Linked DNA regions of Homo sapiens. The protein of the gene in region 2 purifies or fractionates together with the protein of the main gene of each other region. This does not show direct contact. Each region holds a gene or a part of one and is shown on either strand. Other genes may lie near its edges.

Region 1 (4,362 bases), on a different chromosome or scaffold from region 2:
AAAAAAAAAACCACTGATGCAAGATTTTTTGCTCCTTAGCTCAGCTAAAATCCAAGTTCGTGTTGCATGACCAGGAAAAATCAGGCACGCGGACACATCGAAAGATGAGGAGAGTGGAATTTATTAAAAGGAAGCTCTCAGTGAAAAAAAGTGTGATACACCAGCTGAAGAGGCCAGGCTTCTCCCCCTGCATAAGGTGCAAATTCCCAGTGGCTCCACTCCATTCTCCCAGGGCGCATGTGGGCCTTTAGTCTGAGCCACTCCACATTGATTTATTTTCCTTACTGCGCATGTGTTAAGGGACAGAATTTTTCAGTGACCCGGCAGGCGTTTGGCTGTCTCCTGTCTCTATCATTCCCCACTCTAAAGAAGTACATCTAACTGCCCTTAGAATAAAGATAAGGACAAAGACCAATCTTAACTGCTTCCTGCTGACAGGGGGTGCTGTGTTGGGAAAATGGCAGTCAGATTTCCCTAAGAGGCCAATCTAAAGGTTCCTGGCAAAAGGGACCATTATCTGAGGCTCCAGTTGCACGACTGGAGTTTGATGACCTGAAGGCGAGAAGAGACAAACTGAGTTATTAGAAAACATGTATCAAAACAAAACAAGGATGGGGTAAGGACAGAAGTCATGCCAGAAGTCATGCTCGAAAATCCCGAGGCCTTTTACTGGTTTGCACAGGGAGAGGGAGGCCAAAAGCCTGATTGTTAAAAGTTAAAAAAAATTTTTACCCTTTTGCTGGCTTGTCAGTCTTCGAGGTTCCCTTCCCCCAAGCCCAGTCCTAAGCTATTCTCAAGTTTAAGGTTTGGGAAATTAACTTTTCGCAGTTTAGAGGATGGATCCAAGGGGAGTGTGCTGTAGTAAGGAGACACAATTACCTATCTGTGAAGAGAGGACACAAGGGGAAAAGGAAAAAAGAAGGTGTTTTTTTCAAAGGAGTCCCAGGGGTTCAGGATGTATTCAAAAAGGCCACAGACTGAAGATGAATGGCAATCCATCAAGAAAGAGGGGAGCAGGTGTCCCTGGTTCCTTTCTCTTCCTAGTGAATACCCAGGGTAGGTGAGGGAGGGAGAAAGTGACGTGCCCCTTTTCATTTCTTCTGTCCTTATATCCCCAAGACCTGGGTGATCATCAAAGGGTGCCACCCATGAATGTCAAAGCGGCTTTCCCCCATGTTAACAGGGCTTACCCACGTACGCCCTATCTCCCCTGCTGTCAGTAGCCTTCAAGTTCTCTAGACCTCATTTATGTCGTGGATACTAGCATGATGTTTATCCATGAAACAGGAGGCTTGGCTTAATCGGCAGGAGTTAGTCATGCTCACCTGTGCTGTGCTTTTTAACTTCTGTTACCGTCTGCTTCTGGATCCCTCAGATCCAGTTTTTTTTTTCTTAGGGCTTTGACCTGAAGTTGGGAATTGAGTTTGGGACCAAAAATATGTCTCAGGGGTTGTATGGACTCCTTATCATAAGCTGAATGCTAAGGTGAAGCTGTGAAAGGGGTCCTCCTCCAAGGGAAAGAAAAGGATGCCCTGTGACACACCCAGATAACTGGTGGCTATAGTTATGTTTGCTAAGATTTGGGTGCATGGAGCTTGGCTTTGGTTAGCTCCCTTGGTCTTACTTTCCCAAAAAGGAAACCTCTGGATGACAGGCACTGTATTTATTCCCACCACCTAGCAGGATTTGCAGGATAATTGCTTAGAACTAGAATATTGATTCAGATTTTTACATTACCCATCCCCCTTTGTTCCTTCTGGGCTGTAGTTGGAGATCTCTGGTTGGATCACAGGCATAAGCAGGGTTAGTTTTTAAACGAACTAGGCAAAAAACTTGAAAACAACTAGTGGGTCTAGAATTTAATGATGATAAGTTTTTAAACATAATTTATCTCTCTCCAGTCCTCAGTTTTCTTAAAAACAAACCATGATAGGACTGAGTTGTTTGCAAAATAGACTTTGGTCTTATACTTGGCTTGATTCTTTGCATGAAGTGCAGCAAGAATACTTATTTTTACAGAGGGCTTTTAGATTGGCTTTGATGGAACTCTATTCCACAAGGAATCTCAGATAGGACTTTCTAAAGCTGAACCCAGCTGTGGGTTTTTACCCTCAAATACCTGTGAGTTGGGTAAACTCCTCTCTTCTTGAGGTCCCAAGAGCATAGGGTTCCTGGGCCTGTTAAAAAGTGACACTTCTTACTCACCGCAGATTAGGAACCCTGTACAGGGACTGTGTAGGCAAGGTATGAGGCCAGTTTTCCCAAGGAGCTTTTATCAGTTCTGCAAGTCAAGCTTGACTCCTTAAAAGGAAGCATACCCTTCCAGTCAAAGGCCTTGGTAAAACAACTAGTGTCTTCAGTTGTGTCCTGTTGCAAAGAAAATGGAATCTTATTGCACTGATGCAAACAAATATATTGTCATAAGTTAAGTATACTCACAACTAGTTTCCAAATTCTGGAGAAGCCAGGCAGAGAGAGAGAGACAAACATGCTCCAAATTTTGTTCACAGGAGTATACCTTACTCAATTATTAAAGGCTGTAAATAGTTCAAAATAAGTTTCCTTCACTCTGAAAAACAAAGCAAGGATTGGCAATGGTCCAAGCGAAAGTCAAAAAGATTACTTCAGTTTTGTATTCATTAAGTCCATCCAGTTAACTCTTGTTTTGCTTGATATTCATGAACATTTCAGCTCTTCATGAGTCCTGTTTGTTTTTTCTTTATTCTAATGTCTCAATCTCCAAAGTTATCAGAAACCTGCATTTGAGAGCACCTATGAAAGTTCTATGGCTGATTATAAACCATCTTTTGAAGAGGATGAAAACAAGACAACAATTGTCTGTGAATAACAAAATGTCCAGGGTAGTTAGAGTCAGAAACAGAATTGACAAATAAATTTGGTTATCTCTGTGGTTTATAATAACTTAACATAACAACCTTAATTGTGATTGATAGCATATACTCATGATGGGGCCCTAAGATAATTTCTGATGGCCTGGGACTCCTCGGAAAAAACAGAAAAGGCACCACAGATTCCATTTTTATGGCCAGACACTAGAATTTTAGGAATCCTTTACAATTTTGGAACATATATTAATATTATTCCCTAAAATATAACCTGAAGAAGATTAAACATTATTTTGGCAATCCCATGTACCTAAACATGTCAGGTAATCCTGTTTACCTCTCTTCTGGATGTGTCAGGGGCCCTCTGTAGCATCCAAAAGCCAGGTGTCAGGAAAGACAATTTTGAAACTGAAGTTTGATTTTGGGAAGCCTGTTGAATATGTTAGAGGTTTAAAACATTTGATTTTATGAAATAGAATTCCAGATTACCGTAAGTTATTTATTTTGTCAAAATGATGACTCAGAAATTTTAAAAAGCAAAAACCTTTTATAACCCTTTACAGATTTAGCTAAAGAGCAGATTGGTGCCTTAAGAGAACCTTGTTGTGCTTTTATTTCAATGCTCAATTTATGGAAAAGCCATATAATACCCTTTTGAATTTAATCAGTATGTTCACACAAGGAATTTTTTTTTGCAAGATCAATTTTTACAATCCTTCCACTACTTGTTTACACATTTAGCTTTATCTTATCTAATTCAAAACAGTCCTTTAACCCTAGGCAAAAATGTACATTTTGATGACATCTGCATTTTACCAATAATTTTTAAGGCTGTTTTTATTTCTCAAAGATTAAAGTCATGTGAACTAAAAGGTACCACAGCTCTTCTTTCCTTTAAAAAATATTTGATCTAAGTGCTTATTTTCCTTTAGGCCAATTAATTAGAACTCTTGTTTATAGAGATCACACACACAACACATACATAACTACACAGCCAGAAGAAGATCCAGTAGCTGTAAGATTTTCTGTTCACCAATTTCGTAACTGGACAATTAGCCTCTCAGTGGGGCCCTTTAAGAGCAGGGCTAGGAAAGCATGTAGTTTCTAGGGCCTAGTAAACAGGTATAGCTAGAAGACAAAAACAGATTTTGAGAGGGATCCATCCACCTCTAATTCCTGGGGCTCCATTAGGAAAACAAAGGTCTCTCCCAAAATGGAATCCATGGAGACTTTTCTATTTTTCCCAAGGAGTCTCAGGCCATCAGAAATTATCTTAGGGCCCCTCATGCATGCATTAAGAGGGGCAAGACAAAATGGAGAAAAAGAATTCAGTTGACTGAGAAAAAAACCTTTACCCAGCAAAATAAGATCTAAGAAGAGAAAAACATAAAGGTCTTTTAAATATACTTATAACTTGGATATCCACTTTCAATTAAGCTGAACGCTTTTTAAGAAAATCCTTTTGAGTCCCTTATTACCCGACATTAGCCATGCAAAGTGGCCAGTATTTCTGACT
Region 2 (5,529 bases):
TGGGCCACAGGGGAGATGCACGGGCATGACACCCTCCCTGCCTCCAGGAGCCCAACCTTTCTCTTCTCTCACTGGAGGCAAATGCGAACCCCACTAATCACGCTGGCAAGACCACTTCCATTAAGAAAGGGAGTTACTTTTCGGGCTTGGTACCAGATCACAGGCATCTTTTTAAACCTTGTGGTCAAAGGTGCATGACGTAAAATTTGCCGTCTCGACCATTTTGAAGTGTACAGTTCAGTGGTATTAAGTATATTCACATTGTTGTACAGCCAGTCTCCAGAACCTTTCTTCCTGGAAAACCAAAACTCTATACCCATTAAATAACCGCCCCCCATTTCCCTCTGCTAGCTACCATTCTACTTTCTGTTTCTATGAATATGACTCCTCTAGGTGTCTCATATCAGTACAATTGTATAGGATTTGTCTTTTTGTGACTGGAATATACCAAAATTTCCTTCCTTTTTGAAACTGGATAGTATTTCATTGTATGGATAGACCACATTTTGCTTAATCAATTATTTGTCAATGTGCACTTGGTGAGGCAATCACATTTCACTTGTTCTGAGCCTTCACGTAGCCTGGGAAAATGGCCCCTGGTCAATGGCCCCGCAAACTCTCTTAGCAGAACTTAACTTGTAGACTCCATCACAAACAAACAGTGGGCCTATGTGTGCTTGGTCCCTCACGACTCAGGGTCTGCCCCCACAAGATTACATTCTTTTGGTGTTCACGGTGAGAGCTGCTCCAGATCTCTCTGTCACACAGAAGAGACACGGAACATTCTCAGCCCCGGGCCTCTGAGGCTGCTGGCTCTATCCTTTGCCAAGATTTATGCCCCAAGTCTCCTTGAGCTGCTGTTGTCTTTTGAGTGGTGCTTTTTCTTTTTTTTCTCCTTCTGCCTTTTTTTTTTTTTTGAGATGGAATCTCGCTCTTGTCGCCTCCTGGCTGGAGTGCAGTGGCGTGATCTCGGCTCACTGCAATCTCCGCCTCCCGGGTTCAAGCGATTCTCCTGCCTCAGCCTCCTGAGTAGCTGGGATTACAGACGCCCACCACCATGCCTGGCTATTTTTTTTTTTTTTTTGTATTTTTAGTAGAGATGGGGTTTCACCATGTTGGCCAGGCTGATCTTGAACTCCTGACCTCAGGTGATCTGCCTGCCTTGGCCTCCCAAAGTGCTGCGATTACAGGCATAAGCCACCATCCCTGGCCTTTTTCATTTTTATTTTTTGAGACAGGGTCTTGCTCTGTTGCCCAGGTTGGAATGCAGTGGCATGATCATGGCTCACTGCAGCCTCAGCAACCTCCTCCCCACGAGCCCAAGCCATCCTCCCTCCTCAGCTTCCTGGCCTCCTGAGTAGCTGGAACTACAGGCACATGCCACCATTCCTGGCTAATTTTTGATATTTTTTTGTAGAGATGGAGTTTTTCCATGTTGGTCAGGCTAGTCTCAAACTCCTGGGCTCAAGTGATCCCAAAGTGCTGGGATCACAGGCGTGAACCACTGCTGCTGGTTGAGTGGTGTTTTTTCTTAGCTCTGCTGCAGAACCCCACTCTCTGGAGGCCTCTTGCTCCTGGTGGGGAAAGCTTCTTGGTTTACCCCTGAGACCTCCATGTGCAGTGGGCATTTAATTCAAATTGGAGATCTGGCTGCAATCCAGTCCACACTCCTCTCTCCAAACCAAGCACCCTGGCCAGGGATGCAGCCACAAAGAGGGAAGGGCATCTTCTAATTTGTACCAAGGAGCTGTATGTGCCAGCAGCAGCCTTGCTGGGGCCCCAGGGTTCAATGTTGCTATCCTGTTTCCAGCCTTCCCTGTTTCTCCTGAGATGCTCAAGCTGAGAGCCATTGCTCCAGACCCAGGACTGCCTAAACATTGCCTGGGCTCAGTTCTCCCTAGACCCTCACGAGCCGTCACCTGTAATTACAGCTGGCTTCCATGGGGGTGGTGTGGGCAGCCTCCTATCTACTGTATTTGAGAGACTTTCCCAAAAGGACCTCAAGCCCTCCCGTCTCAAGTCTTCCTTTTTCCCAGGGGTCCTCTTTTCACATGAGGATGGCCTGGGATCACAGCCCCTGAGGACCCTGGCAGGATAACTGGGCAGCCCTCTGCCTTTTTCTGACCCGGAGAGCCCGGAGCCTCTGGCAATGTGGTTGCAGAGGTGATGACGACAGACAGTATGCAGCGCTCTGTGTTTCCAGCAGAGGCCAGCTGGCCTGTTCCCATCTGAGTTTAAGGTTCTGCGACTGTCTAGTCTCCCCTGCTGCTCTGGCGGACAGAGGTTGGCCGGCACACACAGTGTGGGGTGGGGTGGGGACAGGAGGTGTTTGTGCTCCTCAGCTGGCCCTCGGCTCACCTACCGCATCTGGGATCTTGCAGATTATGCCAAGGAGCACCTGGCTCAGCTTCAGGAGAAAGCTGAGCAGATCGCAGGCCGCATGCTCCGCTTCTCCGTCTTCTACCGCAACCATCACAAGGAGTACTTCCAGCATGCCAGGTATGGGCGCGGGCTCCCGGCTGGACCCGCCGGGCCTCTCCTCCCTCCCAGCCCTTCCTGCTCCTGTCCTGGCTGTCTGAGGTCACCCCCACCCTCGTGGCTGCCAGTCCCTCCTCTAGGGTTGACATGTCCTGACGTCACCAGGCTGGCTCTGAAGAGACTGCTACTTTGGGGATTGGGCTCAGGGAAGATCAAGGGCTCTGGGGACAGGGCCTTCTGCAAGAGTGTTGTACTAATGAGCCTGGGAGAATGAGGTCTGGGTTTGCTCCCACTCTGGGACAGTTCCTTTCACAGGGGTCTACCACCACAGGTCTCTCCGATTCAGGCCCTGGGGCCAAAGGGAAGGTGGCAGGGAGTGCACAAAATGAGTGTTCTGATCACAAAGGGTTCGAGGAAGCACCCAGCTCGTCGGTTTTCAAACTGGGTGCTCCCTCCAGGGAGACATGTCAGTGAACCCCTTAGAATGCTGCCATGGGGTTGGGGGGACCAGAGGTTGAGGCTTGGTGGGCCCCACACCTGACCTCCAGTCAGAGTAGCCTCAATTTTATTTGCCTGTGACCCTTCCACGTATAATTTCTTTTGGGGATAAAAAGAGAGTTGCTGCAGTCCAAAAGTGTTTGAAAATTGGTGATCTGATCCAACACCCTCAGCCTACAGAAGAGGAGCCTGAGGCCCAGAGGGAAGCACTTGTTCATTCGAGCCAGGGAGTCACTTGTTACTGAGGACAGCCAGGACCAGGCAATGTGAGGCAGGACCAGGAGTACCCACCATCCCCGGGCCTGCTGGCAAGTGCTCCAAGGCCGCATCCTTCTGAGGCTCAGCCAGGGCAAGCAGCTGCTCTGCCTTTTTTTTTTTTTTTTTTTTTGAGATGGCGTCTTCTCTGTCACCCAGGCTGGAGTGCAGGGGCGCGATCTCTGCTCACTACAACCTCTGCCTTCTGGGTTAAAATGATTCTCCTGCCTCAGCCTCTTGAGTAGCTGGGACCACAGGTATGCGCCACCATGCCCGGCTAATTTTTGTATTTTTAATGAAGTGGGGTTTCACCATGTTGGCCAGGCTGGTCTCAAACTCCTGACCTCAGGTGATCCGCCCACCTCGGCCTCCCAAGGTCCTGGGATTACAGGCATGAGCCACCACGCCCGGCCTCTGTCTGTCTTTATCCTTACAGTCAGGGCAGTTTTAACCTCAGGGCAGTGAGGACCTTGGGAGTCTTTGGGGTTTGTATTAAAGAAGCAAGGCCTGCTTGGTGGCTCAAGCCTGTAATCCTACCACGTTGGGAGGCCGAGATGGGATCTCTTGACCCCAAGAGTTCAAGACTAGCCTGAGCAACATAGTGAGACCCCAGCCTCTGCAAAAAATTTAAAGAATTAGCCGGGTGTGGATTGCTTGAGCCCAGGAGTTCGAGCTTGCAGTGAGCTGTGATTGCACCACTGCACTCCAGCCTGGAAAGCAAGTCAGTGGCCCAGTTTGGGCTCCTTTATCAGCGAGAGTGGGAGAGATAGAGAGCACTCATGGGTGCCAGGCACCTTACTTGGTGCCAGGATGTAAAGATAAAGGCACAGTTCACTCTTTTGAGAACCTCAGAATCCAGTCAGAGAGACAGTATGGAAAGATTTCATGTAAAAAGTACGTGTAATTGTTGAGCACAGTTCAGTGTCCTGGCCAGGTGAAGTGGCTCACACCTGCAATCCTAGCACTTTGGGAGGCTGAAGCAGGAGGATCACTTGAGGCCAGGAGTTCAAGTCCAGCCTGGGCAACATAGTGAGAAGATTGGGTGTCCTGCACATAGTAGGAAGCCAAAAATTTGTCAAGTGCAGGTGTCTGCTGTTCCTGGGAGGTTTTAGAGGGGAGCAGACGCTTGACTGAAGCTTGAAGGCTAATTAGAAGTTTGCCAAGCCAGACGGAGGAAGGTGGAGAGGGCAGTCAGTGCAGCAGAGGGAAGAGTCCTGCATAGGGGTCACGGAGGCAGGAGACTGTGTGTGCAGGGGGTGGGTAAGTGGATGGGGTGGCAGGAGGTGGGGAGTGGCAAGGAGACCACAGAGATCAGATCATGAGCCGCCGTGTTTTTCACACACACCCCATCAAAGGGTTTCAAGCTGGGGAGTGACAGCTTCATATCTCTTCTCTGAGAAGGAGTGGGCTGGTTGAATCCCTCTCCAGGGCCCTCCCTGCTCTTGCATTCTGGAATGTTCTATTTGCGACTAGTGGAGGCGGCTGGGGGAGGGCTGGGAGCTGGGCTGGCTTCCTCCCTCCTCGACCACACGCAGCAGCCAAGCCTCAGCCCGGCTCACCAGCCACATCTTCTCTTCCCTTTGGTGTGTCTCCCTGGGGTGGGCAGGACCCACTGCGGGAACATGCTGCAGCCTTACCTGAAGGACAACAGTGGCAGCCACGGCTCCCCCACCAGCGGTATGCTCCACGGGGTCTTCTTCAGCTGCAACACGGAGTTCAACACGGGCCAGCCCCCGCAGGACTCCCCCTACGGCCGCTGGCGCTTCCAGATCCCAGCTCAGCGCCTCTTCAATCCCAGCACCAACCTCTACTTTGCGGACTTCTACTGCATGTACACGGCCTACCACTACGCCATCCTGGTGCTGGCGCCCAAAGGCTCCCTGGGGGACCGCTTCTGCCGCGACCGCCTGCCCCTCCTGGACATTGCTTGCAACAAGTTCCTGACCTGCAGCGTGGAGGATGGGGAGCTGGTCTTCCGCCACGCCCAGGACCTCATCCTGGAGATCATCTACACTGAGCCCGTCGACCTGTCCCTGGGCACCCTGGGGGAGATCAGTGGGCACCAGCTCATGAGTCTGTCTACTGCCGATGCCAAGAAGGACCCCAGCTGCAAGACCTGCAACATCAGCGTGGGCCGCTAGGGACTCCTGGGGAGCTGGGGGGCGAGGGAGAGATGAGCGGAAGGTGGAGGTGGGTAGCCCAGGTTCAGGGAGCTGGCTTTCTCTCTCCTGCCCCCCTGCTCCCTCCACTCTGCCCAGCTGCCCTCCCCTCGCCCCTTGGCATTGGAGGCAACAGACG
Region 3 (3,407 bases), on a different chromosome or scaffold from region 2:
TATAGTAAAATTGTTATATAACTTTTTACAAAATCTGCCAGAGGCCTTCCAATGGAGACAGTCCAAGCTGCAGATGAAGCTTGTTGGCACATCCAAATAATCTCTACAACCTACTTTTAGGGCCAGCTCCCACTTACAGACCTTTTAATATAGTAGTTAAAAAAAATTTAGGCAGATAGGGTACAGGAGTCCTTGGTAAGGCTTTTCTTTTAATAAAAAGCAGCCCCCAAAACCATTTCTTTTCCAACAGAAAGCAGCCTGAAAAGTCAAGCTGCAAGCATAAATAAGCAAGCTAGAAGCTTGCACAGATAAATGCCGGCAGCTGCACCTGGAAGACAGGTGCATCCAATATGGAAGATTTCGCCTCCCTTCTGTTTGTTGCCATGTGTGCAGGTGTCAAGGCTCTGGCCAAGTAAAAAACCCTATCTGCATAATAAAAGATCAAGGTGGAATGGCCAGTTTCTTCGAGGGCTATGTAAATGGCACACCTGGTCAAACCAATCCCTTGGGCTCTATGTAAATCAAATACCACCTCTTCAAACCCCCTCCTCTATATATCAGTCTGCTTCCCGCCAGGAATGGGGAGATCCATTCGGAGTCCTCCTCCCTCTGCATGGGGGAGCTGTTCTCTTTTTTCTGCCTGTTAAACTTTCTGCTCCTTAACCCACCCACGTGTGTCCGTGTTGTTAATCTTCTTGGCACGAAACAACAAACCTCAGGTATTTCCCCAAACAACGGAGCCGATTCACTTTGATCTATTTGTATGTCATGGAGTCTGGCTTCCTGCCGAGTTTTCAAATTGGGTGTCCCCTCACTTTCACTCCGTCACAGGCTTGCCGTGGACCAAGTCTCATGGGCAACACAGGGCCCAGAACCACCTGTCCTTGAGAGCTAGGATTAGTTGGAGGGACATGTATGTGACCAAGTGGTGGCAGTCCCTGAGGCTGCCTTACACACCTGGACGTATCCACATAGCCAGAGATTCTCCTAGAAGTGTCACACATCTAGGGCTGTCGCCTACCTGGGAACTTCTAACCAGATCTCTCTGACCATAACCCACAGAGTATGACCTACTCTGTTTTTTTACACCTAGAGTACAAGGTCTCAATCATGTTTGTGTAGGAAGCATTTCTGTTTTCAATCCAGGGAAAATTGCAAACCCCCACTTTCAGGGATTCCTGAAGAAAAGGCACCCAATAACTTAGGAATATTCTTTCATTTCCTCTCAAAAAACGTTCGTTGGAGTCTGTGGTAGGCTGACTAATGCTCCTCCTGTTACCGGTGGAGGGTGTCCAGGTTCTTGGCGTCTTGATAAAGAAATGGACAAAACGCACAAAGCAAGTAAAGAATGAAGCAACAAAAGAGATTTATTGAAAAACGAAAGTACGCTCCACAGGGTGGGAGCAGCCCAAGCAGCTCAAGAACCCGGTTACAGAATTTTCTGGGATTTAAATACCCTCTAGAGGTTTCCCATTGGTTACTTGGTGTACACCCTATGTAAATGAAGCAGAGGTCCATGATCAGTTTGATTGGTTGTGGGAGGGGACCAATCAGAGGCTGAAGCAAAGTTACAAAGTTACACCACCCTATACAAACATCTGACTGGTTGTGTAAAACGCCCAATCAGAGGCTGAAGTTACAAAGTTATACTCCTAGGCAAATGAAGACTTGGCCTAAGACCAGTCTGATTGGTTGTGGGAGGGGATCAATTAGCGATACTTTCAATTTTTCACCTGCCATGCAGAAAAGGGGCTGGGGGTGGGGAGGTTGCAAAGGGAGTAGCCTCTGGTCCTTTTGTTACTTGAGCGTGGAAAGTTGGGGTTTTCCTTTTGACTTAGTTCTAGGAAGTCAGCCTGAATTGGCCTTAGGAAGCCAATTCCATGCCTCCAGACCCTATCTCCTGCTTCCCTCCCCTTCAGAGATGTCCCTGTCCTCCTCACCAGAACCTGTGAATATCTTATTCTGCAAGGTAAAAGAGGCTTTGCAGATGTTATTAAGAATCACAAAATGGGAGATTATTCTAGATTATCTGGATGGGCGTAATCCCAAGTGTCCTTACAAGGAGGCAGGGAGGGTCAGAGAGGAGGTGTGACAATAGAAGCAGCCAGAATGATGCAGCCACAAGCCAAGGAAAATGGGCAGCCTCTAGAAGCGGAAAAGGGGCAAGGAATGGGCAGCACCCTATAGCACCTCTGGAAGCAATTCGCTTCTGCCGACAACCTTTGGCTCGTGTCCAGGATGACAGAATGATATATTTGTGTTGTTTTAAGCCACTGAGGTTGTGGTAATTTGTTAAGAGTGGCCATAGGAAACCAATACAGACTTCAACAGAGCAGCAGTGAGCTTCTCCTCACAGCCTCCTGTGGCTTTTTGACTATGTAGCTTTGATGAAGAAGTATACTGATGGACAATTTACTGCCTCCCATCAACCAGAGTAGTAGAGTGGTCAAGACAGCACCCTCTGGATGAGATGGCCTGGGATGGAGTACTTACTGTTTATTTCACCCTTTTGTGTCTCAGTTGTCTTGTCTATCAAATGAGGGATGATAAAGAACATACAGTCCTTGGAATAACATCTGCTATGTGATGAGCACACGGGAAATGCCAGCTATTACAGCTGCTACTGCTTCATCACAGCACTTAGAACCAGACCAGATACCCCACTGCCCAGTCCCACATGGCCCAATGCCCAAGGCTGACTCTTAGGACTATGCCATCTCCTCCCAATCCCTGGTGCCAGGATGCCTTGCTGGTAGCTGGAAAGTGGCCATGGCGGGAATATTTACATCATAGGTATCAGCAAACACTCCATATCAAGGCTTTTTAATTTTTTGCCCCAGAGGGCTGGTTTGCCAGCACACCACAACTCCAGACCGCCTTTTACCCTGATTGCATCTTCACTCCTTATACCATCAAGGTCTTAAGCAAATAGCAGCCCATGTTGGCAAAATCAGACTAGCCATTCTCTCATCACTTAAAAAGAAAAAAAAAACTTTTATTCTGGTGTAAGGTGCTATGACTATGAGTATCCTCACTCCCAGCTTTCCCGTGTCCTTGGCACGTCAGACCTGGTAGCCACAAGGACTACACTGGAGTCTAGAACAAACTCTTTCCCCACCCCAAGGATTCTAACCACACACTTGGCCCCAACACTCTACAAGTCCTGTCTTCCTGCATGTGGCTGTCTCAAACCTGAAGGATCACTCGCCTTGAGGATTCTTTGGTCATAACCTCAGAAGAGAAAAAACAGTAACATTCACAAGAGAGACAAAGTGACCTTACAAGTCACTGCATCAGGACCTTACAAGTCTCAATCTTAAAGGTCCAGTAAAAGAAACTGCTGATTCTTGGGATATGATTCTCCAAGGCCTCTCACATTTTTATACATCTGGTAAGAATAGACACCA

What was found.
Region 1: the proteins of PHYHIP (region 2) and KIF15 purify together in Homo sapiens (affinity purification with mass spectrometry; 3 studies listed by BioGRID and IntAct, with this or other methods). This does not show direct contact.
Region 3: the proteins of PHYHIP (region 2) and LIMD1 purify together in Homo sapiens (affinity purification with mass spectrometry; 3 studies listed by BioGRID and IntAct, with this or other methods). This does not show direct contact.

Annotation. Positions count from the first base shown.
Region 1 is NC_000003.12:44,768,294-44,772,655, forward strand, and holds part of KIF15 (kinesin-like protein KIF15), read left to right. Parts: intron 1-4,362. UniProt on the Homo sapiens protein: Plus-end directed kinesin-like motor enzyme involved in mitotic spindle assembly.
Region 2 is NC_000008.11:22,221,196-22,226,724, reverse strand, and holds part of PHYHIP (phytanoyl-CoA hydroxylase-interacting protein), read left to right. Parts: intron 1-1,508; exon of another isoform or gene 1,509-2,283; intron 2,284-2,381; coding exon 2,382-2,499; intron 2,500-4,837; coding exon 4,838-5,372; 3' UTR 5,373-5,529. UniProt on the Homo sapiens protein: Its interaction with PHYH suggests a role in the development of the central system.
Region 3 is NC_000003.12:45,681,751-45,685,157, reverse strand, and holds part of LIMD1 (LIM domain-containing protein 1), read right to left. Parts: 3' UTR 1-3,407. UniProt on the Homo sapiens protein: Adapter or scaffold protein which participates in the assembly of numerous protein complexes and is involved in several cellular processes such as cell fate determination, cytoskeletal organization, repression of gene transcription, cell-cell adhesion, cell differentiation, proliferation and migration.